7 separate regions of the Homo sapiens genome follow, and regions 2, 3, 4, 5, 6 and 7 are each reported to be linked to region 1. The links are microRNA targets in miRTarBase. Many come from high-throughput screens and were not tested one by one. Region 1 holds a microRNA gene; each other region holds the end of a gene's coding sequence.

The links. The annotated mature microRNA hsa-miR-4701-5p reads UUGGCCACCACACCUACCCCUU and lies in region 1 at 1,581-1,602, shown strand. An mRNA with a match to its seed (bases 2 to 7 or 8) in the 3' UTR can be bound and repressed. Matches are read on the target gene's strand: a 7mer-m8 pairs with bases 2 to 8, a 7mer-A1 pairs with bases 2 to 7 and ends in A, and an 8mer does both.
Region 2: miRTarBase lists KIAA0586 as a target of hsa-miR-4701-5p. Seed matches in the 3' UTR shown: 7mer-A1 at 717-723.
Region 3: miRTarBase lists EMC3 as a target of hsa-miR-4701-5p. Seed matches in the 3' UTR shown: 7mer-A1 at 635-641.
Region 4: miRTarBase lists SLC2A6 as a target of hsa-miR-4701-5p. Seed matches in the 3' UTR shown: 7mer-A1 at 1,179-1,185 and 7mer-m8 at 1,417-1,423.
Region 5: the mRNA of TRIM65 is a reported target of hsa-miR-4701-5p. Seed matches in the 3' UTR shown: 7mer-A1 at 1,776-1,782.
Region 6: miRTarBase lists RSBN1L as a target of hsa-miR-4701-5p. Seed matches in the 3' UTR shown: 7mer-m8 at 2,282-2,288 and 7mer-A1 at 903-909.
Region 7: miRTarBase lists CEP78 as a target of hsa-miR-4701-5p. Seed matches in the 3' UTR shown: 7mer-A1 at 2,554-2,560 and 7mer-A1 at 3,165-3,171.

Annotation. Positions count from the first base shown.
Region 1 is chr12:48,769,550-48,773,615 of GRCh38, reverse strand. MIR4701 (microRNA 4701) reads left to right here and starts at 1,579; the gene lies at 1,579-1,641. ADCY6 (adenylate cyclase 6) reads left to right here. Exons shown (of 22, transcript NM_015270.5): 16 at 1-147; 17 at 1,073-1,108; 18 at 1,192-1,321; 19 at 1,643-1,906; 20 at 2,646-2,850. It also overlaps a transcript of SPMIP11 not described here.
Region 2 is chr14:58,547,654-58,551,719 of GRCh38, reverse strand. KIAA0586 reads right to left here. Exons shown (of 31, transcript NM_001329943.3): 31 at 423-3,939. The coding sequence ends at 3,788. Among named protein-coding and RNA genes, the nearest start is that of DACT1, 88 kb to the left of the region's middle.
Region 3 is chr3:9,960,268-9,964,321 of GRCh38, reverse strand. It overlaps EMC3 (ER membrane protein complex subunit 3), which reads left to right. Exons shown (of 8, transcript NM_001394674.1): 8 at 125-1,640. The coding sequence ends at 253. Among named protein-coding and RNA genes, the nearest start is that of PRRT3, 9.9 kb to the right of the region's middle.
Region 4 is chr9:133,468,545-133,472,610 of GRCh38, reverse strand. It overlaps SLC2A6 (solute carrier family 2 member 6), which reads left to right. Exons shown (of 10, transcript NM_017585.4): 10 at 435-1,517. The coding sequence ends at 590. It overlaps CACFD1 (calcium channel flower domain containing 1), which reads right to left. Exons shown (of 5, transcript NM_017586.5): 5 at 1,763-4,048. The coding sequence ends at 3,958. LOC124902295 (a long non-coding RNA gene) reads left to right here and starts at 4,044. Exons shown (of 2, transcript XR_007061831.1): 1 at 4,044-4,066. RefSeq lists a silencer at 3,017-3,136 and enhancers at 3,597-3,646, 3,717-3,766, 3,847-4,006.
Region 5 is chr17:75,887,484-75,891,549 of GRCh38, forward strand. It overlaps TRIM65 (tripartite motif containing 65), which reads right to left. Exons shown (of 6, transcript NM_173547.4): 6 at 1,480-3,864. The coding sequence ends at 3,296. Among named protein-coding and RNA genes, the nearest start is that of TRIM65, 7.4 kb to the right of the region's middle.
Region 6 is chr7:77,778,634-77,782,699 of GRCh38, reverse strand. RSBN1L (round spermatid basic protein 1 like) reads right to left here. Exons shown (of 8, transcript NM_198467.3): 8 at 1-4,066. The coding sequence ends at 3,532. Among named protein-coding and RNA genes, the nearest start is that of TMEM60, 18 kb to the left of the region's middle.
Region 7 is chr9:78,270,378-78,274,443 of GRCh38, forward strand. CEP78 (centrosomal protein 78) reads left to right here. Exons shown (of 17, transcript NM_001330691.3): 17 at 464-4,066. The coding sequence ends at 474. Among named protein-coding and RNA genes, the nearest start is that of PSAT1, 25 kb to the right of the region's middle.

The DNA of each region.
Region 1 (4,066 bases):
GGCCAGCTCTGTCTTCCTGCACATCAGCAGCATCGGGAAGTTGGCCATGATCTTTGTCTTGGGGCTCATCTATTTGGTGCTGCTTCTGCTGGGTCCCCCAGCCACCATCTTTGACAACTATGACCTACTGCTTGGCGTCCATGGCTTGTGAGTTTATTCTCAGGTCCTTTAATACCCCAGGAGCTTCCCTCACCTTTCTAGGTCACTGTGAGCCTCTCTGGTGCCCATGCCCCTTGTGCCTTGGAATGCCACAACACCCCTGTGGGGGAAAGGGAGGAGATGGAGGAGCTCCCAGCATGTGACCCCAAATAGTTACCCCCAAGGAAACCCTAGTCCTGGGAAATCCTTGTGTCTTTAGGCTAGACATTAAAAAAAAAAATTCCCTCTTACATTTGCATGGTGCTTTCACATCCACCATCTTAACCACCTATAGGACATACAGCTGCTTGGTGGCAGGGCTCTGGTTAGGAACCAAAGCTTCTGATTCCTGCTTGGGGGCTTTGCCTGGGACACCACACTGGCTTTTCCTCTGCAAAACCCCATTCCTTTGATATGTGGCCATAGCTTGTTGTAGTAGAAAAAGCCTCTGGTCTCTGCTGGGTTTGAATCCCTGCTCTGCTGCTCATTAGCTGTGTGACTTTAGACAGGTGAGTTAGCTTCTCTGAGCCTCAATTTCTTCATCTGTAAAATGGCAATGTCACCTAAATCACAGGGTAGTTGTAAAGATTATAGTAACTAACATTTATGGAAGGCTGACTATATGGCAGGCACTGTGCTAAGCCTTTTACATACATTATTTAGATCTGATCCCTGTTGTACTGATGAGGAAGGAGGCTTAGAGAGTTAAGCGACTTGTCTCAGGTCACATAGCTGGTAAGTAGAGGAGTCTCTAAGAGCAGAGGTTTTCTTAACCTCTACTCTTAATGAGTTAATTAATGTAAGTAAAAGCCCTGGCCCAATGCCTGACTTACAGTATGTGCTCAGTAAATGCAGTCTCTTGTCTCCCCTTCCATGTGCCCACCCAGCAATCCAGGAAGCACTGATGACTTTGTCTCTTCTATCTTCTTACCAGGGCTTCTTCCAATGAGACCTTTGATGGGCTGGACTGGTAAGTGAGGGCTCCGAGGCAGCAAAGGGTAGAGCCATTAGATGCCTCCTTCAGACACCAAGCATGTCTCTGCTTATCCTTAGTCCAGCTGCAGGGAGGGTGGCCCTCAAATATATGACCCCTGTGATTCTGCTGGTGTTTGCGCTGGCGCTGTATCTGCATGCTCAGCAGGTGGAGTCGACTGCCCGCCTAGACTTCCTCTGGAAACTACAGGTGACTGTGTGGGCCTTTGGGGGAAGAGGAGGAACCTAGGGGCGGAGCCTGGGCCAGGCCAGAAATGTATCTTGTGCTAGCTGGCTAAGGCTCAGGCCACACCTAGGCCCACCCTGGTTCCATTCCTTCTCTGTGCCCATCCCTTACTCCCTGCCCCATCCTCTACCTGCCCCCTTTACCCCTTTGCCTGTTCTTTAGGCCTCATCTGTCTGGGCCTTTCTTTCTCTATGTGATTCCCTCTTATCCGCACTTCCAAGCCTTGGCCACCACACCTACCCCTTGTGAATGTCGGGCAATGGGTGATGGGTGTGGTGTCCACAGGCAACAGGGGAGAAGGAGGAGATGGAGGAGCTACAGGCATACAACCGGAGGCTGCTGCATAACATTCTGCCCAAGGACGTGGCGGCCCACTTCCTGGCCCGGGAGCGCCGCAATGATGAACTCTACTATCAGTCGTGTGAGTGTGTGGCTGTTATGTTTGCCTCCATTGCCAACTTCTCTGAGTTCTATGTGGAGCTGGAGGCAAACAATGAGGGTGTCGAGTGCCTGCGGCTGCTCAACGAGATCATCGCTGACTTTGATGAGGTACTTTTCCAGTTGGCTGGTGGTGGCAGAGAGTGGGGGGTACTTGGAGACCAGGGATTGGAATGGGTGAGTGGAACTGGGAAGAGAGAGAGAGATTTGATGGGACCCAGAGTCATCAGGGGTAAGGGTATGCACAGTGGAGGCAGAGGCAAGAACCCATGAAGGTGTCAGAGGCAGCAAGGGGGTCAGCCCTAGTGGGGCAGGGTCATCACTGTTGGGGAGCAGGGGAGGACTTGATCTGTAGGGGGATAGGATAGGTACCAGGTGGATGTCACTGAAGAAGAAGGCAATAGTCTGTGGACAGAACCTCATGAGACCAACCAAGCAAGATGGTCCTCTGAATAGAGAAAATTGAAGCAAAATGTGAGGTAGTGTCCTGAACATCCAGATCAGGAATGGGCTGTTCACTGTTCTGGAGGGAAGTCACTTGCTCACTCTGGGACTCAGTATCCCAAAAGGTAAGGATTGGAGAAATTGCTTAATATTGCACTTGTGGGTCTGTGTTCTGTGAGTGAGCTACTGGAGGGACCTTCTGAAGCTGTATGCCCAAGTCCTGCCTGGAGTCCTAGGCTGCCTGTTTTCCCAGCTCCTCAGTCTTACACTGATAGCAGCAGCTGGAAGGGGGCTCTTGAGACAGGGAAGTGGGGAAGGCAGCCAAGGCGTGGCAAGAAATGAGTGTTGGGGCAGGGCTGGGTCTGGGGTCTTTGCCTTGACAGCCAGGTCTCCTTGTGTTGTTCAGATTATCAGCGAGGAGCGGTTCCGGCAGCTGGAAAAGATCAAGACGATTGGTAGCACCTACATGGCTGCCTCAGGGCTGAACGCCAGCACCTACGATCAGGTGGGCCGCTCCCACATCACTGCCCTGGCTGACTACGCCATGCGGCTCATGGAGCAGATGAAGCACATCAATGAGCACTCCTTCAACAATTTCCAGATGAAGATTGGTAAGAGGGCTTTGTTGCTTGGCGGGTTTTCCCAGGACTTTTTCCAGGTGAAGCTGGGATTATAGGCTGGGGATGGGATCACAGATTTCCCATCAGGGCTCCTGTGGGGTTTTCTTCCCTCTGACCTCCTATATCAAGTCTGATATTAAGAACAGAGATCATTAGGCACTGTCCTATAAATTTTTGAGCATATTTTAATCCTGATACTATTATCGCCTTTCATTGGATAGAGACTGACTCTCAGAGAGATTAAATAACTTGCCCAAGGTCAAACAACTAGTAAGTGGCAGAGCTGGGATTAAAAATCAGGTTTATATAAACTTGAATACTTCTGTCCTTATCTGTGACCAGTCCAATAAGAGGTATTTCCTCTCAAATGAACTGGTGGATGGGAGTGGTTAATAGCATGGCTACTAGAGATGGACTATTTGGTTTGAATTCTGGCTGCTCCATTTACTGGCTTATTTGAGAAGTCTTCTAACTTCTCTAAGCTTCAGTTACCTTATCTATAAAATGGGGATAATAATACCTACCTTTTAGAGGTGTTGAAAGGATGAAGCCATGCCGGGCGCGGTGGATCATGCCTGTAATCCCAGCACTTTGGGAAGCCGAGGTGGGCAGATCATGAGGTCGGGAGTTCAAGACCAGCCTGACCAACATAGTGAAACCCCTTTTCTACTGAAAAAAAAAAAAAAAAAAAAATTAGGCCGGGCGCAGTGGCTCACGCCTGTAATCCCAGCACTTTGGGAGTCCGAGGCAGGCGGATCACGAGGTCAAGAGATCAAGACCATCCTGACTAACACGGTGAAATTCCGTCTCTACTAAAAATACAAAAAATTAGCCGGGTGTGGTGGTGGGCGCCTATAGTCCCAGCTACTCGGGAGGCTGAGGCAGGAGAATGGTGTGAACCCGGGAGGCGGAGCTTGCAGTGAGCCGAGATGGTGCCACTGCACTCCAGCCTGGGTGACAGAGCGAGACTCTGTCCCCCCCAAAAAAAAAAAAAAAACAAAAATTAGTTGGGTGTGGTGGTACATGTCTGTAATCCCAGCTACTCGGGAGGCTGAGGCAGGAGAATCTCTTGAACCTGGGAGGCAGAGGTTGCAGTGAGCTGAGATTGTGCCACTGCACTCCATCCTGGGCAACAGAGCAAGACTCCATCTCAAAAAAAAAAAAAAAGAAAAGAAAGGATGAAGCCAGGTAAAATGCTTACTAGAGT
Region 2 (4,066 bases), not on the chromosome of region 1:
ATCTCAGCTCACTGCAACCTCCGCCTCCTGGGTTCAAGCAATTCTCCTGTCTCAGTCAGCCTCCCAAGTAGCTGGGACTACAGGCACACGCCACCACATCTGGCTAATTTTTGTATTTTTGGTAGAGACGGGGTTTCACCATGTTGGCCAGACTGGTCTCGAACTCCTGACTTCAGATGACCCACCTGCCTCGGCCTCCCAAAGTGCTGGGATTACAGGTGTGAACCACTGCGCCCTGCCAGTTACAGAATTACTTTTTGATTGGGGGTGGTAATACACTATGAACTTAAAAATGCTACTTTACTTATTTTTAAAATGTTTTGAGTTAATAGAAAAACAATAAAAGATCTTAAGATATATGTTTAGCATTTTAAAGTTATCAAGGAACCAGAAATCTGTAAGCAATAAGAAACATATTGAAATAATCTTCTAAGAATAAAAATATTTATTCAAGATTCTATTAAAGTATACAAAGAACGAATTTAGGATTTAAAACAGAGGAACATTTTATTTATTTATTTATTTATTTTTGAGACAGAGTCTTACTCTGTTGCCCAGGCTGGAGTTAAGTGGTGCAGTCTCAGCTCGTTGCCACCTCTGCCTCCTGGGTTGAAGCAATTCTCCTGCCTCAGCCTCCCAAGTAGCTGGGATTACAGGCACACGCCACCATGCCTGGCTAATTTTTGTATTTTTAGTAGAGATGGGGTTTCACCATGTTGGCCAGACTGGTCTTGAACTCCTAACCTTGGGTGATCTGCCTGCCTCAGCCTCCCAAAGTGCTGGGATTACAGGTGTGAGCCACCCGCACCCAGCAGAAAGGAACATTTTAAACACGTTACCTAGTGTTAAGGCATGATAGCTCAGCAATTTTTTTTTTTTTTTTTTTGAGACACGGTCTCATTCTGTCACCCAGGCTGGAGTGCAGTGGCACAACCACGGCTCACTGCAGTCTTGACATCCTGGGCTCAAGCGATCCTCTCACCTCACCCTCTTGAGTAGCTGGGGCTACAGGTGTGTGCAACCATGACCAGCTAATTTTTTGTATTTTTGGTAGAGATGGGTTTTGCCATGTTGCCCAGGCTGGTCTCAAACTCCTGAGCTCAAGTGATCCACCCTCGGCCTCCCAAAGTCTTGGGATTACAGGCATGAGCCACCGTGTCCAGTCACAGCCCAGCAATAGTAACAGCCTTGATCTTGATAGTCTCTTAATAGCATGTCTCATAAATAGTTTATTCCGGAAGTTGGAAATTGTAAAATTTAATATAAAATAAAAATTTTAAAGCTTATAAAATCAAAAGTTCCATTTAGTTTGTTTTTACGTACATCGTCTTATTCCAAAAGAATCTGAAGTGGTTGGCAGAGGAATGTGTACAGGAGTAACCATGAACAGAAATAATCCTATAAAACAAAATACTAGATGAATGCCGGGCGCGGTGGCTCACGCCTGTAATCCCAGCACTTTGGGAGGCTGAGGCAGGCAGATCACCTGAGGTCGGGAGTTCAGGACTAGCCTGACCAACACGGAGAAACCCCATCTCTACTAAAAATACAAAATTTGCCGGGCATGGTGGCGCACGCCTGTAATCCCAGCTACTAAGGAGGCTAAGGCAGGAGAATCGCTTGAAACCAGGAGGCAGAGGTTGCGGTGAGCCAAGATTGTGCCATTGCACTCCAGCCTGGGCAACGAGCAAAATTCCATCTCAAAAAAAAAAAAAAGAAACCGTCGAATGGACACTAATTTTTTTTAAAAGAAAAGCTCACGTGCACAGGGAGTAGAATAAATCAAAGATTACACTTCTACCCTAAAGTTAGAAAAGGCAGGCTTTCTATGGTTAGGAGGAAAAATCTACCAACACCTTTAAATAAAAAATGCTTTAACTAAAACAAGATTTTGCTGAAATCCTTCCAAGGCAGAAAAAACTATGAAAACCAGAAACCAAGGTTGGGGGGTGGGGTGTCATGTTTAAAATGAAGCAGCACTAAGCAACATTTCTCCAGCTTTCACCTTGCCCAGAGTCTTGTAGATGAATATCAAAAACAAATTAAAATCCACAGAGCAGAATTTTTCTTCCACTTGTTTAAAGGAAACTGTTATAAGCAGAACTGTCCAAAGGGCCATATCAAAGAAAACGGGTTCTAAAGTGAAACCTAAAACATTCCAGTAACCAAATACCTGAGAGAAGCTGTGAGGAAGTGCATGTGGAAGGCTGACACATTTCTGAGTTTCCATAGACTCTTGCAGCTTCTATGTTCAGTGAGAAAAAAAATCCCCAGGCAATGGCTCCTACTAGAAGTTTAAGGAATTCTAAATTGCTCTTCAGTAATTCTCAGCCTTGAGTGCCCATTAAAATTACCTGAAAAGGTCTTTTTTTTTTTTTAATACCAATGCTGGACCCCATCCAAGATCAATTAAATTGAAATCCCTTGGTACAAGGCCCAGGCATTAGTATTTTTTAAAGCTCCCAGAGGTTCTAATGTGCTGCCAGTGCTGAGATCCACTTAGCAACCTACAAAAATGCTGAAAAAGTCAAGGATGACTGTAATTACTGTGTGTTTGAAATTCAGTTGTGACAGAAAATGATTTTTCTGGGAGGTAAATTTTTTTCACTAGTGCTAGGCTGCCTTTCTTTTCATGTGCTTATGCCCTCTACTATACAGTACTGAAATCCCTCAAGATAATAAGAACAACACCATTTATTGAGCACTTACATGGTATCAAGCACTGTGCTGGGCACTACCCACCCCCATCTCCACACACAATCACTGATGTCCATTATTCTGCAAAAATAAGTATTAAACCCATTAATCTGAAACAGCTGATAAGAAGGCGTTTCGTTGGCCCCTATCACAAAGCAAGAAGTTACAGAATTGGGATTAGAACCTACATGTATCTGATTACGAAGCAATGCTTTTTATTTTCCTTTAATTTTATGTATTTATGTTGCAAAAGGTAATAGAGTTACATGTTTCACAGGTTTATAAAGGTTTATATGGTATACATAAGGCATATAAAAATTAATCTCACTGATGATTTTTTTCTATCACAACTGAAGTTCAAATACATAGTAACCACGATTATCCTTGATTCCTATCACTTAGCCTCTCCTATCACCCAGCCAACAATTCTACTCCCTGGAGACAAACTTAGCAGTTTCTTGTTTATATAATATATTTACAAGCAAATACATGTAAGAATATGTGACATACCATACATTTGAATTCCTCCCCACCCCATTTTAAATAATTTCAACAACTGCATAGTTCACACACTATTTTGCACATGGCTTTTTTCACTTTAACAGTGCATCTCAAAGATTATTCCATATCAATAAACTTTTTAAATTTTTTTTTGTAATACATAGTATTCCATTGTACTGATGTACCATCACTTTAAAACCAGTCTATTATTGATAGACATTTGATTTTTTCTATTTGCTGTTATAAAAATGTTAGAATGAATAACCTTGAGCTACATAATTTTATAAATACATACAGATAATTACACCTATAGATTAAATGCCTAGATGTCAAAAGCCATGCCCTTTCACTACTCTATGCTATCTCAGGATTCTAAGAAACAACTCACAATCAGACTTATAATGACTTATACTTATTTTATTTAAAAACTTTAAATACCCAAATTATGCTTTTTGTTTTATTTTAAAATATTGGAATTTTTTTTTCAGAATATGCTCAAAAACCAAACAGTCTGAGAGAGGGTTTTAAGCCAAGGTAAAATGACTTTAAAACCAGTGGCATAAACACTGTGCTGGCTGTCTCTTCCCGTTCAGAAGGTATCTGCCCCCGAAGACTCCATGTCCTCCTGCATTGTGCTGAGACTCAGAGACTGAGAGCAGTCCTCGAGGTTCACTGACGGCAGCATCACTGACATCTTGGCAGGGGGCATCTGTGAAGCGGAGAGTGGCACTGCTTTCCCACCTGCACAAAGGAGAAGCTCATTCAGCTCAACATGCGTAACCTGAGTATTTACGTGCTTTATGCTTTGCGAAATAATATGAGGTTGGGGTGGGGGGGCGCGGATTCCAAATAAGGATTGCCTACAAGG
Region 3 (4,054 bases), not on the chromosome of region 1:
TGAGCTTATACATGCAGATAGCTCACTCCAGCTTTTGGCCCAGAGTAAGTGGTCACTAAAGGTTAGCCACAGCTGTCAGTAACAATTCCCTCTCTTCCTGCCTGGGTGTTCTCTTCCATTACAGACAGAGTGGGAAGCTTTGGAGCTGACGGATCACCAGTGGGCACTAGATGATGTCGAAGAAGAGCTCATGGCCAAAGACCTCCACTTCGAAGGCATGTTCAAAAAGGAATTACAGACCTCTATTTTTTGAAGACCGAGCAGGGATTAGCTGTGTCAGGAACTTGGAGTTGCACTTAACCTTGTAACTTTGTTTGGAGCTGGCACCTCTTGAAATAAAAAGGAGGATGCACGAGCTGGCAGGCATGCAGCAAGGCTTGTTCTTGTCTGGGCTGGGTTCCCCTTTATGTTTGAAACTAGAGGAAATAGGAGTATGCTGGGCAACTTGTTATTTTTAAAATGTTGTAAATGTTCCTTCTGGTGACTCTAGTAATGAAAGTCAGAGAAAGGGGGAAACCTCAGGCTACTGATAATATATAAAATCTTGGCCAGGCGCAGTGGCTCACGCCTGTAATCCCAGGATTTTGGGAGGCTGAGGCGGGTGGGTCACGAGATCAGGAGTTCAAGATCAGCCTGGCCAAGATGGTGAAACCCCATCTCTACTAAAAATACAAAAAAAAATTAGCCGGGCGTGGTGGTGGGCACCTGTAATCCCAGCTACTTGGGAGGCTGAGGCAGAGAACTGCTTAAACCTAGGAGGCGGAGGATGCAGTGAGCTGACATCGTGCCACTGCGCTCCAGCCTGGGCGACAGAGCAAAACTCCATCTGAAAAAAAAAAAAAAATATATATATATATATATATATATCTATCTTAGCAGAAGCCCAGTCTTCGAAGGAAGCATTGTTAATTATAGCTAATGATTATGTGCAGTCAGCCTGACATCTAGCCACAGTAAACTCCTGTTTTCTTGGGATCCAAACACCCTGTGTTTTACCATTAGTTTTGTTAGTATTGTTAACTTTCTTTACACAAGTAAACCATTTCCACTACCAAAGGTTTAGAAACTATGGATGAACAAAATGAATCTCCCTGTTCATTTTGAGCCTACATAGACATAGAGACCAAATATGTCAAAACCTTATTCAAATAAACTCTCTTCAGAGTGAATACCCAGGGTCAGGACAGACTCAGCAAACCTTCTATATCACTTAATTCTGCCCAGTGAAAATCAGTGACCCTGAGGCACTGCCAGATTCTAAAGTGCCTTTGGGATCATCAGAGACTGTCTATAAATAATGCAAAATCTTGATCTGGATGTCAGTGTATCAAATCTTATCAAATCCATTGACAAATCAGTGGTGCTATACTGGAAATGGCTACTCCTTTGGATGAAGGACCTCATTTCCCAGTTGCTTGGAACAAAAGAGAATTTACATATTGCTGTAAGAAGGGAGAGACGGCAGTTGTTGGTAGACACACAGATAAGGGTGCCCAAGAATAATTCTGTCTGGATTAAAGGTCCCAGGGAAGTGACGGTGCCATTTCTGTACCAAGAGGTGAATATAATTTGCATGTTGAGTGCAGTAATTAAGAACAAACGACTCGACTCCACAAATTAAACCGTCCTGTTTTCTCTTCTTTGCCTGTGAAAGTGTTGCCTCTGTAAGTCACTAACAACCTTCTGCCAGCAGTTGACTGTCTATCTTGGATCAGTGCGGGGAGTCTAAGACGAAAGAGATGTGAACCTTGCCCTCAACTCACAAGAGAGAGACACCTAAGAGCTTTTTAAAATTTTTTATTATTTTTTTAGAGACGATACCTTGCTATGTTGCCCAGACTGGTCTTGAACTTGTGAGCTCAAGCCATCCTCCTGCCTCACCCTCCCAAAGTGCTGGGATTACAGGCATGAGCCACTGTGCCTGGCCAAAAGAGACCTTTTTTTGAGGTCACCGAATCTGAGAATCTGGAATCTCTGACCCTGGCCTCCAGAGTAACATATGTGGACATAGATACAGACATGTCCCTCTAAAACTTATTCATAATGACCCGCAGACCCAAGTTAAGAAACCCTGACCTTTAACGATAGTTAAAATGGCTGCTTATACCAGATAGAAAAGGAACAAGTGTTCACAGGAGAGCTAACCTTTGACCTGGGTCTTGAAAGACTTCCTCTGTGTAGAAGGGCATTCCAAGCAGAGAAAACAGAATCAGCAAAAGCCCATGGATTAAACTGTCTGCAATTCATTGCACCCCAAGGAAGTGGGGAGTGGTCCAGTATGCCCTGGAAAGGTCCAGGTTGGGTAGCATGCAAATGGTAATTGGTGATTGAGTGGTAGCCGCCTCGTTCCTCTGCATCGGGAGCATTTGAGTCTGCCTCTTCACCCACACAAGGTTTGGCCTTTTTCCCTTGTAGCAAAGATGGGTGGTTAAAATGTGTGTGACCAGCCTGGCCAACATGGTGAGACCCCGTCTCTACTAAATATACAAAAATTAGCCAGGCATGGTGGTGTGCACCTGTAATCCCAGTTACTCGGGAGGCTGAGGCAGGAGAACCACTTGAACCTGGGAGGCAGAGGTTGCAGTGAGCCGAGATCGTGCCACTGCACTCCAGCCTGGGCAACAAGAGTGAAACTCCATCTCAAAGAATAAAAAAATGTGTGTGAGACTTTCCTGTCCCATTGTACTGGTAGTAAATGCACAGACCTGTCCTTGGCATCAGCGAGTCAAAAAGAAAAGCCAAGGTTGTTTTAGTAGGCTCTTTCCAGAACAGCGCACAGGCTTAGGGAGCAGTGCTTATTGTGTGTGTTTCTTGGAGTTCAATTTGGGCCAGGCTATAAATGAGAATTGCATCTCTTCCATCCACCTTGACTTATCACCTGATACTACTTAGGACACCGCAAATGTCTACTTGCTGATCATGGAATAGAACAGGGGTGTCCAATCCTTTGGCCTCCCTGGGCCACACTGGAATAAGAATTGTCTTGGGCCACACATAAAATACACTAACACTGACGATAGCTGATAAGCTACAAAACAAACAAAAAACAATGTTTTAAGAAAGTTTATGAATTTGTGTTGGGCCCCATACCAAGCTGTCCTGGGCGGCATGCAGCCTACAGGCCAGACAAGCTTGGTATAGAAAGTACCGTACAAGGAAAGCTAAATATTGACAGTCAACTGCACAACACAACTCAGAAAAATACAATTTAGATTTGAGGTGAGTAGGTAAACCCGTGCTTAGGGACAAAAGTCAGCTCGATTCCTCTGTTTGGTCTGTAAGGTGTGTGATGGGTATGTGTGTATGTGAAAGAGGGTTACTAACTGGATTAGGAATATTGCAGTTGCAGGTGACAAGCTGAACTCAAGCAATTAAAAAGGAATGGAAATTGACTCAATAACTAAAATGTCTGGTGGTTGGCTTCAGGCACAGCTGGGTCCAGGGCCTCTCATGATATCATCAGGACTCAGTTGCTTTCTCAAGTCTGCTTCTTAGACAGTTAGTTTTCTTATAGAGGCACGAGATTAGTAATCCTAGTGAAAAGAAAGCACCCCTTTTTAAAAAATCTAGGAAAAGTTAGGGTTGCATCTTAACTCATCTGCCTTAAGTCAACTGCAAATTCCAGGAACTGCTTAGCTTCTCATAAACTATAAGAACTGAAGGTATAATAAGAGTGATTCCCCAAAGGAAAACTGGGATGCTGTTGCCTGAAGAAGTGGCATGGGTACCAGACAAAAAATATCTTATCTTACCTTTAATCATCCAAACCATCTGGAATGTTCCCAACAGGAGGTGCTGTCCCTGTCCTTGGAAGTAATTGCGGTCTGCAAACATTTGCAGGATTTCTACAGTGTGCTCAGGGCCATGCTAGATATTTTCAGATCTTTCTGTTCATTCAACCAATAGTGAATTGAGTGTTGCCAGGCACTGCATATGAACAAGACACAGTCACAGACCTTAAAAACTCAGACTGCTAGACCAACCTGGCTAACACGGTGAAACCCTCTCTCCACTAAAAAATACAAAAAAATTAGCCGGGCATGGTGGCGGGTGC
Region 4 (4,066 bases), not on the chromosome of region 1:
TGTCCCTGCAGTGGTCAGGGCAGGGGGGTTGGGGGAGGGCAGGCAACCCAGAGTGAGTCCATCAGCCTAGAGGGTCCAAGAAGAACCTGCGTGCCCACCAGGCTGCAGGGCGGGCCTCCTGCAGGCCGCGGCATGGAACAGCTGGGATGCCAGCGCTGGGTAGGGGGTGTGGAGGGGGTACCTGAGCTGACGCCAGAGGGCCCAGCCCCTGAGGAAGGCCGAGGGGCAGACGGGATGCAGACTTCAAGGGCTACTTCGGATTTGTCCTGGGGACAGTGGGGGAGCCCTGGTGTGGGGGGGCGGTCTCTGAACACAGGAAGGACCAGATGAAGGCCCCACAGGGCTGGTCACTACCAGCAGCGCCCACGAGCTCCTCTGGGGCAGGAGGACCCTGGAGCTTCTCCCTGTGACCCGGCCCCGCTCTTCACCCGCAGAGCACCTTCGGCCTCCAGGTGCCTTTCTTCTTCTTCGCGGCCATCTGCTTGGTGAGCCTGGTGTTCACAGGCTGCTGTGTGCCCGAGACCAAGGGACGGTCCCTGGAGCAGATCGAGTCCTTCTTCCGCACGGGGAGAAGGTCCTTCTTGCGCTAGGTCAAGGTCCCCGCCTGGAGGGGGCCAAACCCCCAGTGGCTGGGCCTCTGTGTTGGCTACAAACCTGCACCCTGGGACCAAGAGGCAGCAGTCATCCCTGCCACCAGCCAGAGCACAGGAAGAGCAGTGTGATGGGGCCTCAGCAGCGGGTGCCCCTGGCTCGGGACAGGTAGCACTGCTGTCCAGCCACAGCCCCAGCCCAGGCAGCCCACAGTGCTGCACGTAGCCATGGGCCGCAGGAGTGCATACAACCCTGCATCCAGGGACACGGCCCTGCTGGGTGACCTCAGGCCTAGTCCCTTTCCCTTGCGTGAAGGACACGCCCCACAGAAGGCTACGGGGAGGACTGAGAGGACAGGGCTGGAGGCAGCCAAGTAACGTAGTCATATCATCGCGCTCTGATCTGGTGGCATCTGGCTGTGCAAGGAAGACCCGGCTTTGCCCTCACAAGTCTTATGGGCACCACAGGGAACATCCTGGACTTAAAAAGCCAGGGCAGGCCGGGCACAGTGGCTCACGCCTGTAATCCCAGCACTTTGGGAGGCCAAAGCAGGTGGATTACCCAAGGCCAGGAGTTCAAGACCAGCCTGGCCAACATGGTGAAACCCCGTCTCTACTAAAAAATACAAAAAAGCTGGGTGTGGTGGCACACACCCGTAGTTCCAGCTACTTGGGAGGCTGAGGCAGCATTGCTTGAACCCGGGAGGTGGAGGCTGCAATGAGCTGAGATCATGCCATTGCACTCCAGCCTGGGCAACGAGAGTGAAACTCCGTCCCCACCCCCTGCCAAAAAAAAAAAAAAAAAAGCCAGGGCAAAGGACCTGGCGTGGCCACTTCCTCCTGCCCCAGCCCAACCTCTGGGAACAGGCAGCTCCTATCTGCAAACTGTGTTCACCCTTTTGTAAAAATAAAGGAACTGGACCTGTAGTCCTAGCGAGGAAAGAGTGGGGTCTACTCCAGGAGCCCCCACAGCAGCCAGGCTAGACCCGAACCAGCCAAGGTTGCCAGGGCCACTGACTGCTGATCCATAGCAAAAGCAGGGCAGGGAAAAGGCTGCAGTGAGGGGAAGCCCACTGCGAGGCCCACCCTTAACAGGCTCTTTCTAGCTGTGTGACCTTGGGCAGGTCACTTTCCTTGTCTGGGATGCTGGGGGCAGCCTCGGGACAGGACCTGTAGTTATTTCCTGGGCCAGCGGCTCCTGCCTGGCTTCCACACTCACACACAGGCACCAAGGCAGAAGGGAGCAGAGGGCAGGCACGCGAGCCACGGCCACGCTTTATTGCTTAAGACGCACACAGAACACAGAGGAACAAACAAGGAGGAAAGGGCGCCACACACAGCCCAGACCAGGCAGGAGCGGCCCAGCCGCCGGAAGAGACGTTCCTTGCAAGGCAGGGCCCCTGCTGGACAGCACGCCCCCTGGGCGACAGGGTCAGGGACCCCAGGACTGCACAGCTGCAGACTTGCTGGGAACCTGGGACAGGTGACACGCCCACTCTCGCCTGTGGCCCAGGGCCTTCCACCTCTGCATCCAGCCATGCACCCACCATTTCCCCACAGGGTACAGGGGCAGCCTTCCTTGATCCACAGCCAACCCTTCTCCTGCTGTCTCTGGCTGTCAGTGAGACCCCTCTGGAAAGGGCAGAAGCAGGCAAGCCAGGCAGAAGGGGGCCCGGGGTCCCACTACCTGGGTAGGAATGAGCAGAGGGCGGGCAGAGCCCTTGCTCCTTGTGGGAGGTAGACAGGTCTCACTGCATACATGGGACAGATGTGTGCACCCACACACATATACATACACACACACACACACACACACACACACACACACACAGCCCTTTGAACCCAGCACTGGCCTGAGGAAGGTGGCCCCGGAGGAACCCTGAAGGCACATGTCCACCAGGCTATAATGCCCCTGCCACCCTGGGGCTCAGCTGGCCAGACTCCCAGGGGTGGGATGCTGCTGACCCAGGAGCCCACCAAGTCCCCAGGGCAGTACTGGGCAGGGCCCAGAAAACCCCACGCCCAGCCCACCAGCCTGCCACTCCTGGCCTCAGATGCCACTCCCGGCCTCAGATGCCACTCCCAGCCTCAGACGCAGATGGGCCCGAGAGGTGTTCCTGGGAAACAGTTCACTTAGCAAGACCCAGTACCTGCGCTCCAGAAGCTCAGCGCAGGCCCAGCCTGGGGTTGGCCCCAGATGGAATATCTTCCACACCCGCCCGCTTCTGCCAAACCCCACCTGGGCTAAGCCAGGCCCGACCAGGCACCTGCCCGATGGCTGAGAGCCAGCCTCACGGTCAGAGAGGCCAGCGGGCTGAGGCCACAGGGCAGAGGGAATATGGGGGTGCACATCCTGGGCACCAGCTCTCTGCATCCTCCCTGGGTAGGCCTGGCTCCGGACAGCCTGGCACCCAGGGCAGTGGGGACAGCTCTGTGTGGGGAGGTGACTGTGGCCTCTGCCCAGTTCTTAAAAGGCAGAAGCTCCCTGAGGGCAGGGCTTGGGCAGGCCAGCAGGAGCACCTGAGTGGGGCTGAGGTCAGACCCACTAACCCACTAATGGGGCTGGGCTGTGGCTGATGTTGACGGGGCCACACCAGGGAGAGGGTGGGCACCCTCGGTGCCAGGGAGAGCCTGCTCTCCCCACTTCCTTAGCACCAAGGCCAGCAGGGGCGGGGGGTGATGGGCAGAACCTAGGGGCCCCAGCAGGCCCAGGGAGGAGGGGCAGCCGAGGGGCCTTGAGGTGGCCTGTCCAAGGTTCCCAGGGCCAGCAGGGAGCATCCCCCACCCAGCTGTCCAGTCACTGCCAAGGCTGCAGTTCCAGGTACCGGGGTGCACCTTAGGAGCCCTGTGGGCTTCTTCAGAAGGCAGGGTGACAGTGGGCGCTGCACCCTAGGCAGCAGTGGGAGGTTGCTGGCAGCGGCAGGCTGTCCCAGGCCCTGGGGCTCCACCTGCTAAGAGAGCTGGGGGAGGTCCCTCTGCTCAGTGCCCAGGTGGCAGGGTCCCACTTGCCCCTCCCCTCAAGCCAGGACCAGCATCTCCAGGGGAAGCTGCTCCCAGGTCACAGCAGGTCACAGGCAGCCCTGTCTGTGGTGTGAGATCTGCAGACCCACCCAGCAGAGGAGTAGGGCTGGGTAGTGTCCACACAGCTGCTGCAGGCTCTGCCTCAAGTCCAGCAGCCCAGACCCTCACACCAGCAGCCAGTGGCTCCTGGCTTAAGCCAGTCTGGAGAAAGGAGCAGAGGACTCCAGGTGTAGGGACACGTGCAAAGGCCCCTCTCCAGGCTGTGCCTCAGCGTGGACAGTCCAGGCCTCACTTGGACCCACACAGAGCCAGAAGAGGGGACAGGGAGGGAGGGGCGCCCAGCCCTTCACAGCTCCCCCTCCAGGGTCTCCGCGAGCTTCTCCTCATCCGCCTGCTGCCTCTGCTGCTGGATCCTGGCATAGGAGATCGCATCGCCCCTGGGGAGAGAGAGAGGC
Region 5 (4,066 bases), not on the chromosome of region 1:
AAAAACAAAACAAATTAGCTGGGCATGGTGGCGGGTGCCTGTAGTCCTAGCTACTCTGGGGGCTGAGACAGGAGAATGGCATGAACCCAGGAGGCAGAGGTTGCAGTGAGCCAAGACTGTACCACCGCACTCTAGCCTGGGTGACAGAGTGAGACTCCGTCTCAAAAAAAAAAAAAAAAAAGAAAAAAAGATAAAGGGTGGGAGTCTCTGAGCCTATGTTGACTTGGGAGGCTGTCCATTAGGAAGAAAAGAGGGGGGCCGGACATGGCGACTCACGCCTGTAATCCCAGCACTTTGGGAGGCCCAGGCGGGTGGATCACGAGGTCAAGAGTTTGAGACCAATCTGACCAACATGGTGAAACCCCATCTCTACTAAAAATACAAAAATTACGCCGGGCGTGGTGGCTCACGCCTGTAATCCCAGCACTTTGAGAGGCCAAGGTGGGTGGATCACAAGGTCAGGAGATCGAGATCATCCTGGCTAACACGGTGAAACCCTGTCTCTACTAAAAAATACAAAAAGTTAGCTGGGCGTGGTGGCAGGTGCCTGTAGTCCCAGCTACTTGGGAGGCTGAGGCAGGAGAATGGTGTGAACCCAGGAGGCAGAGCTTGCAGTGAGCCGAGATTGAGCCACTGCACTCCAGCCTGGGCAACAGAGTGAGACTCTGTCTCAAAAAATATATAAATAAATAAATAAATAAATAAATAAATAAATAAATATTAGTCGGGTGTGGTGGTGTGCGCTTATAATCCCAGCTACTCGGGAGGCTGAGGCAGGAAGATCGCTTGAACCCGGGAGGCGGAGCTTGCAGTGAGCTGAGATCACGCTATTGTACTCCAGCCTGGGCGACAGAGCAAGACTCTGTCTCAAAAAAAAAAAAGAAAGAAAGAAAAAGGGGTTATTATTAATAATATAGAACACGCTCGCAGAATATAGAAAGAACCACCACCCAATAGGAAGATGAATTTCACATAATAAATGACCCCAAACACCTCCCACCTCAGAAGCAGAAAGGGGCCAACTCTTCCTCTCTCTGCCCCTTTCAGAGCGCGGCTCAGCCCGTTGGGTGCTTCTGCTGCAGCCTTGGATTAGGAGGGACTATGAGGTGGGGACAGCAATGACAGCCATCTGGCCAGGCCAATACATCCTGCCTGGCTGGGCTTTCAGCTCCCACCATTGCCCCTAGCTGGTCAGCAAGGTCCTGCCCGCCTCCTGGCTGTGGGGCTGCACATGTCAGATTCCCTTCCCATGTCTGGGGAGCTCCCACCTGAGGATCTTGCTGGAAAGTCCTTGCCTGGGCTGTGCCAATCCAAGGCCCTGCCCTGCTCTTGAACAAACAGCCACAGGCTAGGAGCAGGGCCACAAGATGGAGGCTGCAATGACGGCAGTGATCGGGGTGGGGTCGTCGTGGGAGGTTTTTTTTTTTTACAAATATAAAAACATTATATATATTGGGGGTATGTATATTACACGTATTATCCTTTTAAAAAGTTTTATTGTGAAATATTTATCCATGAGTACATATAACATAGATGTCCAGTTTTTCAAGTTACAAAAAGCAGACAGCCCTCCCTTTTTTTTTTTTTTTTTGAGACAGAGTCTCGCTCTGTCACCCAGGCTGTAGTCCAGTGGTGCAATCTCAGCTCACTGCAACCTCACCTCCTGGGTTCAAGCGATTCTTCTGCCTCAGCCTCCCCAGTAGCTGGGATTACAGGCGCACACCACCATGCCCGGCTAATTTTTGTATTTTTAGTAGAGACGGGGTTTTGCCTTGTTGGCCAGGCTGGTCTCGAACTCCTGACCTTGTGATCCGCCTGCCTCGGCCTCCCAAAGTGCTGGGATTACAAGCGTGAGCCACTGCGCCTGGCCAAAAGCAGACACCCTTGGAACCACCTCCCAGAACAAGAAGTGGAACATTTCAAGTAAAAAAAATTACACCTGCCCTATGACCCAGCAACCCCACTTCCGGAAATACAAGCAAAATCATGCCCAGGGGTCTTCGTGGCAGCTTGCTCTGCAATGGCAAACACCACACCAAACCAGGAGGAGCTAGCCTGTGCCGACACCTGCACACACGGCTGCCCCAAAGTCCCACACCCAGGGGTGGGATGCTGGAGATGAAGGTCCTGCCAGTGTCACGTGCTGCTTAGTGACAGGGTTGAGGGGCCTTAGTCGGCTTGACTCAAGGTGGCCTCACTGTGGCCTTTTGTATAAAAAAATCTTCAAGTGCTCATTGTTCCCTGAGTGACTCACTTGAGGTAACAGCCTACATACATGACCATAAATGTGGCCAAACATCCCACTCAGAAATATTCATCATAAGCCAGGCGTGGTGGCATACACCTGTAATCCCAGCTACTCAGGAGGCTGAGGTAGGAGAATCCCATGAGCCCATGACCGCACCCCTGCACACCAGCCTGGGTGACAGATGGAGATCCTGTCTCAAAAAAAACACATCAATGTTTGTATAGCTAAAAAGAAAGAAATTTAAATGTCCAATAATGGATAAATAAACTTGATAGTCATTAGAATGACTACAGCAATCAGTGAAAATTTTCAATCATGTGAAAAATGCTTATGTTAAGTCAGGAAACTTCAGAAAACACTGTAATCTGAGCTACTCTGGAGGCTGAGGTGGGAGGATCCTTTGAGCTCAGGAGCTCGAGGCTGCAGTGAGCCATGATTGTGCCACTGTACTCCAGCCTGAGTGACAGAGCAAGACCATCTCCTAAAAACACAAAAATGTTTAAATGCAGAAAACAAAATTGTTTGTAGAATACAATTATAAGGATGCACAAAATAAAAAGACTACAAGACAGGACGGACGTCTCTCCAAATGTTACAAAAAATTAAAGAGAGCTGCAGGCGGGGAGGAGGGAGGAATCTGTCTCCCCCTGGGACTACTCTGGCTCACCGCCCCTCCCTGACTGCTCCTTTGGCCCTTATCATCTCCAGAGGCAAGTTCAGGTAGATCTGAATTTTGTCACACACGCTGTCCTGTAAGCCCAGAAGTCCCCTGGGCACTGCTCTCGCCTCCCAGGCCCAGACAGTACCTAGAACTGGGTTCTCTCTGGGGCAAGGGCATCCCATTTATCCCCCTCCTAGACTGTGTCCCCTTCAAAAAGGCTGCAACAGTGAACTCTGCGTTTATGCTCACCTCCCCCAACCTCCCATCTCTTTCTGAGTTAACAGAGAGGCCAACAGCTGGTCCTCCAGTCCCCAAGCTGAAGCTGGGCAGCTCTTGGGCACATAGGCATGGTGGCAGCTATGCCAGGGCTCCATCCCATGCCTTCTTCAGCTGAGCACCTCTTCCTGGGGCCCCAGAGGGAACACAGCCCCTGGCTGATGGCACAGGGTCAGGGTCCTACCCTCGAGGAGCCAGAAGACGGGGGTGAGGGGCTGGTTGAAGAGGGCATGGAAGGTGTACAGGGGCTGGGTCTGGGGCTCCAGGCTGTAGAAGGTGAGGCAGCCTGAGGCCAGGTCCAAATCCATGCCCAGGAGCCGCCCTGACACCCCTGGGAGGCGCTGGGCTTCCCCGTTGTGCCAGGCCTGGAGGCTGTCCTCCTGGACGCAGAGCCCCCAGGAGCAGGGTCCCCGGCCAATGTTGTCTGTGTGGGGCCCCAGCCTGCACCGTGGCAGTTGCGGGTAGGAGACGCCCAGTGTCACCGAGTGGTCTGACGCGCGCACCTCCCAGTAGTGGTGCCCGGCCTGGAAGCTCTGGGCACATTGCACCTGCCAGAGCTCAAAGCTGCCGGGCCCGCCTGGGCCCCGGGACTGACGACAGTGCTTCACCTGCTGGTCCTGGCGCGACAGATAGAAGTGACGGTTGGCGCTGACTGGATCAAAGGTCAGATTGCGATAATCTGTTGGGGAAAGGAGGACAGCAGTGGGCTGGGGGAAGACAGCACAACCAGATCTCCATTTATCCGCTGCTAAACCTCCGCCAGGCACGCTGAGCACCGGCCGTCACCATAGCACTTAATCCTCGCCACGACCTCGCAGGCGGAATCCTCTATCAGCCCCGTTCACAGCTGAGAAAACTGGGGCTCTGAGAGCCATTAACTC
Region 6 (4,066 bases), not on the chromosome of region 1:
ATGCATTAAAAATGAATATATGCGGAAACAAACATAATTATTTCCCACAAACATACACACACAAAAACAGGCACATGCACACACACAAATACAGTGTTGTGCAAAATCAACTTAATGTTTATTTAAGGTCAACAGCCTTGGTGACAAGGAAGATAATGAATATGGCTTCAGTAAAGTTTGCAAGTAAATATCACAAATGTTAATTCTTTTGCTAGCTAACCAGCTATCCTGAGTATGGAATACGTATTATTTAGATAGCTAAAAGGTTATAAACAAAATGGAGGGGTAGGGAGGGGGAAGCACTGTAGCAGATTCCACTGAGGTACCTTAGTTTTTATGTAAAGGTCTGTATACTCATTTAATAATTTACATAACAATTCTTTATTCTATATAGTATATGACCATATAGAAACGATGTCTTATGTATTTTATTGTTCTGGTCCAAGAAACTGGAAATAAAAGCAAAACGCTTGTATTCAGATAAAGAACTGGAATGTACTATGAAACCATTAATATAATGCAATATTAAAATAGAAAATTTTTGCATGTAACAAAGGTAGTCAACAAGTTCTCAGATTGTATCTGAAGAGGATGTGAAAATTATAACCCATAAGACAAGGAACGTAAGCATTATTGAAGGCATTAACAAGGCTGTACCTGCAAATCTTGAGCCCACTGATTTATACTTTACCTTCAGAGATGTATGCTTTTTTTTTTTTTTTTTTTTGAGACTGTCGCCCAGGCTGGAGGGCAGTGGGGCGATCTCGGCTCACTGCAACCTTCTCCTCCCGGGTTCAAGCAATTCCCCTGCCTCAGCCTCCCAAGTAGCTGGGATTACAGGCGCACGCCACCACGCCCAACTAATTTTTTTGTATTTTTAGTAGAGACGGGGTTTCACCATGTTGGCCAGACTGGTCTCAAACTTCTGACCTCGTGATCCGCCCGCCTCGGCCTCCCTAAGTGCTGGGATTACAGGCGTGAGCCACTGCACCCGGCCGATGTATGCATTTTTAAAACAATTAAATTTTCATATTATAGATAAGTCTGACTATAGGTTATATAGGAAACTATACCTAAAAGCAACCACTATGGTTTTTAGATATGCCTTCCTTTAAGTTAAAAAGTTTAAGGCTCCTATTTTGGAGGGATACCCTAAAGACATTTTCTCACAGTATGACCTCAATGCATCTACATATATGCTACTGGAAAACTGGAAATAAAACACAACTCTTGTTAAATATATCATTCTTCAACTTTAAAGAGAAACAGAAAACCATTTTAACTACATCCCTTCTTATTTCTCAATACTGGTTTGTTAAGAACTTCTGCCACTCAAAAAGGTAGGTGCAAATCCATAAATTTAGCTTAAAACAGAAGATTAAATAGGTGGGGAGCATGGTAAGACAATGACATATAAAACAAAACCCTTACTATCTTGATTTATACCTTCCCTATCCCATGAAACTTCCTACGTTGCAAACACTGATTTCCTACAAACCATGAAGATTTCCTATGATATTTGCCTATCCTTTTATTAAACTAGGGGCCAAAACTGACATCATTGCTGCAATTAACTTTTACTTGTTCTGGTGAAATGCTTCTTCCTAAATGGCTTCGCCCTAACCAGAAATATAAGCAGTTTTGATGGTTACCATAAATTAAGCCAGAAATGGAAATACCAACAGTAACCCAAAAGGCAGCACAAAGAACCCCAATTGAAAGTCATCAACCAAAGTATGTGCCCAGAATAATACCAAAAACAAACAAAATAGATTTGCAATGAGCAGAGTTTCTTACAGCAACGCATACATCAAAGACTTCTGATTTTTAATTACAATAGTAGAAGCAGTGTCAAATAGTGAGTCTATCATTAAAGAGGTCTGTTTTACTCATCTTTAGTTAGGCACTGTCAATCCGTCTCCTACCTCAATTTAATTTCTAGAACTTCTTTCGAAAAGGAAGTACTCCAAGTTGTTTGCCTTGCTAGGGTAGGGAGGAGATCCTGAGAGATAAGAGGTACCACAAAGTATTTTGTTAATTATATCTCTATATGGCAGTTGAGTCATTGTCATTGCCCTTATTTTACAGTTTTGTATTTGCCATATTTTTCTCCCATTCTGCAAGAAAAATGTAAAAGGATTTTAATTGCTCACAAGCTTTCTGTAACTAAAGATTTTATACTTAGCTATTACTTAGTAAAGGTACTTACTAGTAAGAAAATTCTCTAAACTTCTTATCATCCCATACACAATAAAAAAAATCTATGGTAGGCTATGTAATCTGGCCACGTAACTATTAGTTAGAAGCCTTTGTTATCATTAACATACCTTGTTTCTCCCAACTTTCTAAAACTGTTTCTATTACCTAAACTGCTTTCTTAATAGTTTAATATAAAACTTTTTTCAATGTATTTTGGGGAGAAGGGCTAAGGAATTTCACATATTGATCTTATTCAGCAATTTAAGAAAATTATGCAAAATATGATATATATATACATATATATACACATTCACACACACGCAGATGCACACTTTCTTAACTGAGTCTTGGTTGTTAAAAATGCCTGCATAGGCTGGGCGCTGTGGCTCACCCCTGCAATCCCAGCACTTTGGGAGGCCAAGGTGGGCGGATCACAAGGTCAAGAGATCAAGACCATCCTGGCCAACATGATGAAACCCCATCTCTACTAAAAATACAAAAATTAGCTGGGTGTTGTGGTGCGTGCCTGTAGTCCCAGCTACTCAGGAGGCTGAGGCAGGAGAATAATCACTTGAACCCGAGAGGCAGAGGTTGCAGTGAGCCGAGATCGCACCACTGAACTCCAGCCTGGTGACAGAATGAAACTCCGTATCAAAAAAAAGAAAAAAAGAAAAAAAAAAAAAAGCCTGCACAGTGTGAGGAACTTAAATATTTACTAGATTTGAATTACGTACATTTGCACTACAATACCACACTAAATAGATATACCAGCAGAGAATCATTATCAAATGACTTAAATGAATTGTCAGTTTGTCTTTACAGACTCAACAGAAAACATATTTATTAATATGAACATATGAACCTTTATTAAGTGGCTCACATTTCAGTATAAATCACACTAAAAAGATATTTAAAAGCTATTTACACTACAGTGCTGACACATTTAAAATGAAAAAAAAGGATATAAATAAGCTCTATGGAAAAGCTTTAAATTGTTGAAAAAGAATTCTGGCTCATATTACAAAATATATATATATATTTATATATATATATATATGTTAATGTCAGCTCTATTCTAAAACCTAAAATTCCAACGTAAATGATTTTTTTTTAAAGACTCCTTTATGTTTAAACCTGCAATGTTTACAGTGCATCTGGCCCTAAGTGCTTAATACTTCACAGTTATGGACAGGCACTGAGGAATGTTACAAAGCTACATAAACTATGTTTTGTAACAGACATAGGAGCAAGTCCTTGGCTTGCTTTCAGAATTCATGAATCTTTATTACATTAAATTTTTTTAAAAAAGGATTTTAGATGGTATATGCAAATTTAGCACAAAATGTCATCGTCTTTTTTATCTTGATTTGAATGTGCTGAACTGTGTTGCCTTGTATCAACTAGACTTAGATTTCCAGGGCACAATTCTTCCTTTAAATCTTTGTTGCTATTTTCAAATTTAGAATCCATGTCAATCTTAAATTCTGCAAATTGAACATGATCCAATTTTGCTTTAACATTCTTGCCATCCATATTATTCAGTGCTGTAGTCTTTTCAGGAATATTAACATTCACAGGTTCTTCCTTGATTCTTACAGATGCAATAGGTTCATGTTTAATCTGCTGTAATTCATATTTAGAATGAAGTTTATCTGAAAAAACAGAATCCAAGGAGGCTTTGCTTACAGCACAAATCATGTTGTCAGTGTGAGGTCCAAGAACAGATGATGTGGAATCTGATGATGTGCCTGTTTCATGAGTAGCTGTATTCTGAGAAGTGTCCTCCTCTGAGTGATATAATTTGAGCCGAATATGCCATGCTAAACTGCATACAGCTGAAACTGTCTTGAACTGATGAACAACATTC
Region 7 (4,066 bases), not on the chromosome of region 1:
TAAACTTTCAATATACCTGAAATAATATCATTTAATTTTGAAATATGGTATTTTCATTTGGTTTAGAGAAAGGTACAAGTGTGTTCCTTTACTGAGAAATTACTATGCACCTTTACTGAGTACTTACCAGCACATATACAATCTGTATGCAAACAGGACCCTTTTCAGAAAACATTCAGATGTGATACTGTAGCAAAGAGCTTGTCATCCTGTCTTAAATTCACACATAATTACTAGTGGTCAAAAATCATCACTCTTGCTTGCCCATCCAGTTCTATATCCAATAATGAGTTCGTCCAATTTCAAATGGGTATTTACAGAATCTCTAATCTCAAGACAGTAACACTTGATTTTCAGAGGATCGGCATGATAGGAGATGATTGGTTTTTTGAAAAATTCTGATTATAAACTACATGCTGGAACATTAACATGGATGACTGAACACATTCTTTTATGCTTCTAGAATCCCATTGAAATGACTGGAGAAATATTAAAATAAAAATAATAGCAGAGTTGGAAAACCAGAAATTTGAACAGTGAAATTTCTGGAAGATAAGAAGCAGATGATTTAAGTACCAGTTAATTAAAGGATGGAACAGCTAAGCCATTCCACTCATCTTTGGAGCATCTGATTCTGGAGTTTGCCACCAGGCTAAGAAAGCAGCTATCTGAAGTGGGAGCTCTGACCCAAGAAATGCTGGGATCGGAGAATAAGGGAATTATCCAAAATGGCTCCGAAGAGGAACTGAAGTTAAGCTGCCCACATGATCTCTCTAACTATGATGACCTGCCACTTCCGTTTATAATCACCATATAAGTGCCTGTAATCATTTGTGTTCATTAAAAGTGAACCAGAATTCCCATTTGGATGAAAAAATAACACTTCCAACTTTAATCTTAGGCCCTCATTTATAAATATGGACAACCAAGAATCATCAAATTTGAAGAAAACCAGTAACATAAAAGGAGGCATGAAATTAAAATTAACCTGTTCAAGAAGATAGTTACTAGGAGAAACATGAAATTTTTAAATTAATGAATCAAAATCTTCAGCAATTCATAAAGATACTGTGTTCATAAAGAATAGGATGCCATGAAAAAAATATTTAGAGTTTCTGGAAATTAAAAATTTGATTATGAAACTGAAACACTCAGAAGATGGACTACACAGCAGAATGGATTCATTTGAAGCTTAAATTCATGAAATGGAAGGTATTAATTGGTCTTAGACGTTTCATCAGCAACTTAATTACTTAGAAAAAATCTTTCTCAGAGTAACTAAGCAAAATGAACAATGAACCCATTAACGTGTGGTTTTGTTTTTTGGGTTTTTTTTTTTTGAGTCAAGGTCTCACTCATGTCACCCAGGCTGGGGTGTAGTGATGGGATCACAGCTTATTGTAACCATGAACCATTGGGCTTAAATTATCTTCCCACCTCAGCCTCCCAAGTAGCTGCAATGTACCACCATGCCGAAGTTTTAAAAAATTATTGTAGAGTTGGGTTCTTTCTTTCTTTTCTTTTTTTCTTTTTTTCTTTTTTTTTTGAGACGGAGTCTCGCTCTATTGCCCAGGCTGGAGTGCAGTGGTACAATCTCAGCTCACTGCAACCTCCTCGATCTCAGCTCACTGCAACCGTGAAGTGATCTTCCTGCCTCAGCCCCCCTAGTAACTGGGATTACAGGCACACACCACCATGCCTGGCTAATTTTTGTATTTTTAGTAAAGACGGGGTTTCACCATGTTGGCCAGGCTGGTCTCGAACTCCTAACCTCAGGTGATTCACCCACCTCGGCCTCCCAAAGTGCTGGGATTACAGGCATGAGCCACTGCATCCGGCCAAGATGGGTTCTTTCTTAGGCTGGTCTTGAACTCCTGGCCTCAAATGATCCTCCCACCTTGGCCTCCCAAAGTGCTGAGACTACAGACCTGAGCCACTGTGCCCAGCCCCATGAAAGATGTTTAGATCAAATAAACTGATAAAGATATTGATAAAGATATGAGACAAACTACTTCAGCTTTGTGACCTGCAAATCCCCTTTTATAATCACCAGAGGTGCCTGTAGTCAGAAAAAGTCTAAATAAATACTAATGACATATGAAAACAAAGTCCAACCAAAGTTCTAGGTTTGAACATGAATGGAGGCATGGCAGGACACAGAAAGTGAAAGCTTGTCCTAGATATTGTCTTATTCATGGGAAGGATACAGGTAGTGTTTGATTCTAGGTATTGATTGAAAAAATATATTAAAATATATATAAAGTTAAGGGTATGTTAGTAAGGATAGGTTAGGTGATGTTGCATTAACAGCTCCCAAATTTTAATTACTTTCAACAACATAGGTTTATTTGTGCCCATGCAGTTTGCCTTTGGCAGATTGGCTAGAGGCCCCTATTCAACATCAACCTCAATCTGGAAGCGAGGCTGGTGGAACGTCACTATTTGGAACATTGCTGGTTGCAGTGTCCAAGGAAAGACAGTATGATGCAGCATATATTGTGACTTAAAGCTTCTGTCTAGATGTGACATATGTCACTTCTGTTCACATTTCTTTGGCCAAAGAAAGTCACATGGTTATGCCTGAGTTCAGCAGACCAGGGAAGTGCAGAATTGCCATTTGCCATGAGAAGAGAGGGAAGCAAATGTATGTCAACAACTTTAATAGCTACAAAACTACCTGGAAAGAGGGAATGGAATTTTTAGGTCCAACAAGACGGGAAAGAAAAAGAAACAAGCTACATAGAAATAAAAAATCCACAATATAGCAAGATCAAGTTTTTTACTCATAATAAACATGAACAGGTTAAATTCTGGAATCCTTAGGCTTGAGTAAAAACATGAAATCCCACTGTGTGCTATTTGCAAAATCTAAAACGCTGTCATAGATTATAAAGAGATGAACAAAAATATACCAGGCAGATGCTAAAGAGTAAATGTGGCTGTGTTAGCTGCAGACTAAATAGAACCCAAGGTGAAAATTGGTAAAGGGGACAAAAGCTTCTTTTGGCTGATAAGTACAGTGTTGCAGAAGATTTTTTAAAAAAATATATCTGCAATTTAAAAACTTGATGTTAGGCCGGGCGCAGCGGCTCACGCCTGTAATCCTAGCACTTTGGGAGGCCGAGGTGGGTGGATCACCTGAGGTCAGAAGTTCAAGACCAGCCTGGCCAACATGGCAAAACTCCGTCTCTACTAAAAATACAAAAAAAAAAAAAAAAAATTAGCTGGGTGTCATGGCGCATGCCTGTAATCCCAGCTACTCGGGAGGCTGAGGCAGGAGAATCGCTTGAACCTGGGAGGCGGAGTTTGCAGTGAGCTGAGATGGCACCGCTGCACTCCAGCCTGGGCCATAGAGGAGACTCCGTCTCAAACAAACAAAAACCTTCATCTTAAAATTATAGGGTAAGAATTTAGAAATACAAGGAAAAATGGCCAGCCAGTTATAACAAGAAGCTTTAAGACATCTCTTTTCAGAATCAGTGGATCGACTGCTGCACACACACTAGAATGGCTAACATTTTGAAATGCTGATAAATATGCAGAGCAACTGGAGTTCCTCACAGCTGGTAGGAATGCAAAATGACTCAGTCACTCAAAACAGTTTGGCAGATTCTTTAAATGCTAACATACACATACCATATGACCAAGCAGTCCCACTCCTGGGTATTTAGAGAGATGAAAACTTAGTTCACACAAAACCTGTGCGTGGATATTTATAGCAGCTCCATTCATAGTGACCAAGATGTCTTCCAACAGGTGAATGGATAGCGATGTATCCATATGGTGGCAAACATGCCACAATTCGGATGAATCTCAACATCATATGCTGAGTGAAAAAGCCAGTCTCGGAAGGCTACATTCTGTATGATTCCATTTATATGGCATTCTTGAAAAGACAAAACTATAGTGACAGAACAGATTGGAGATTGCCAGGTGTTGGGGTTGGGAGGAGTTGATTACAAAGAGGCTGTACAAGGGAGTTTGTTTGTTTGTTTGTTTTGGTGATGAACAGTTCTGTATCCTGATTGCGGTGGTGGTAACGTGAGTCTATACATATGTTAAAATT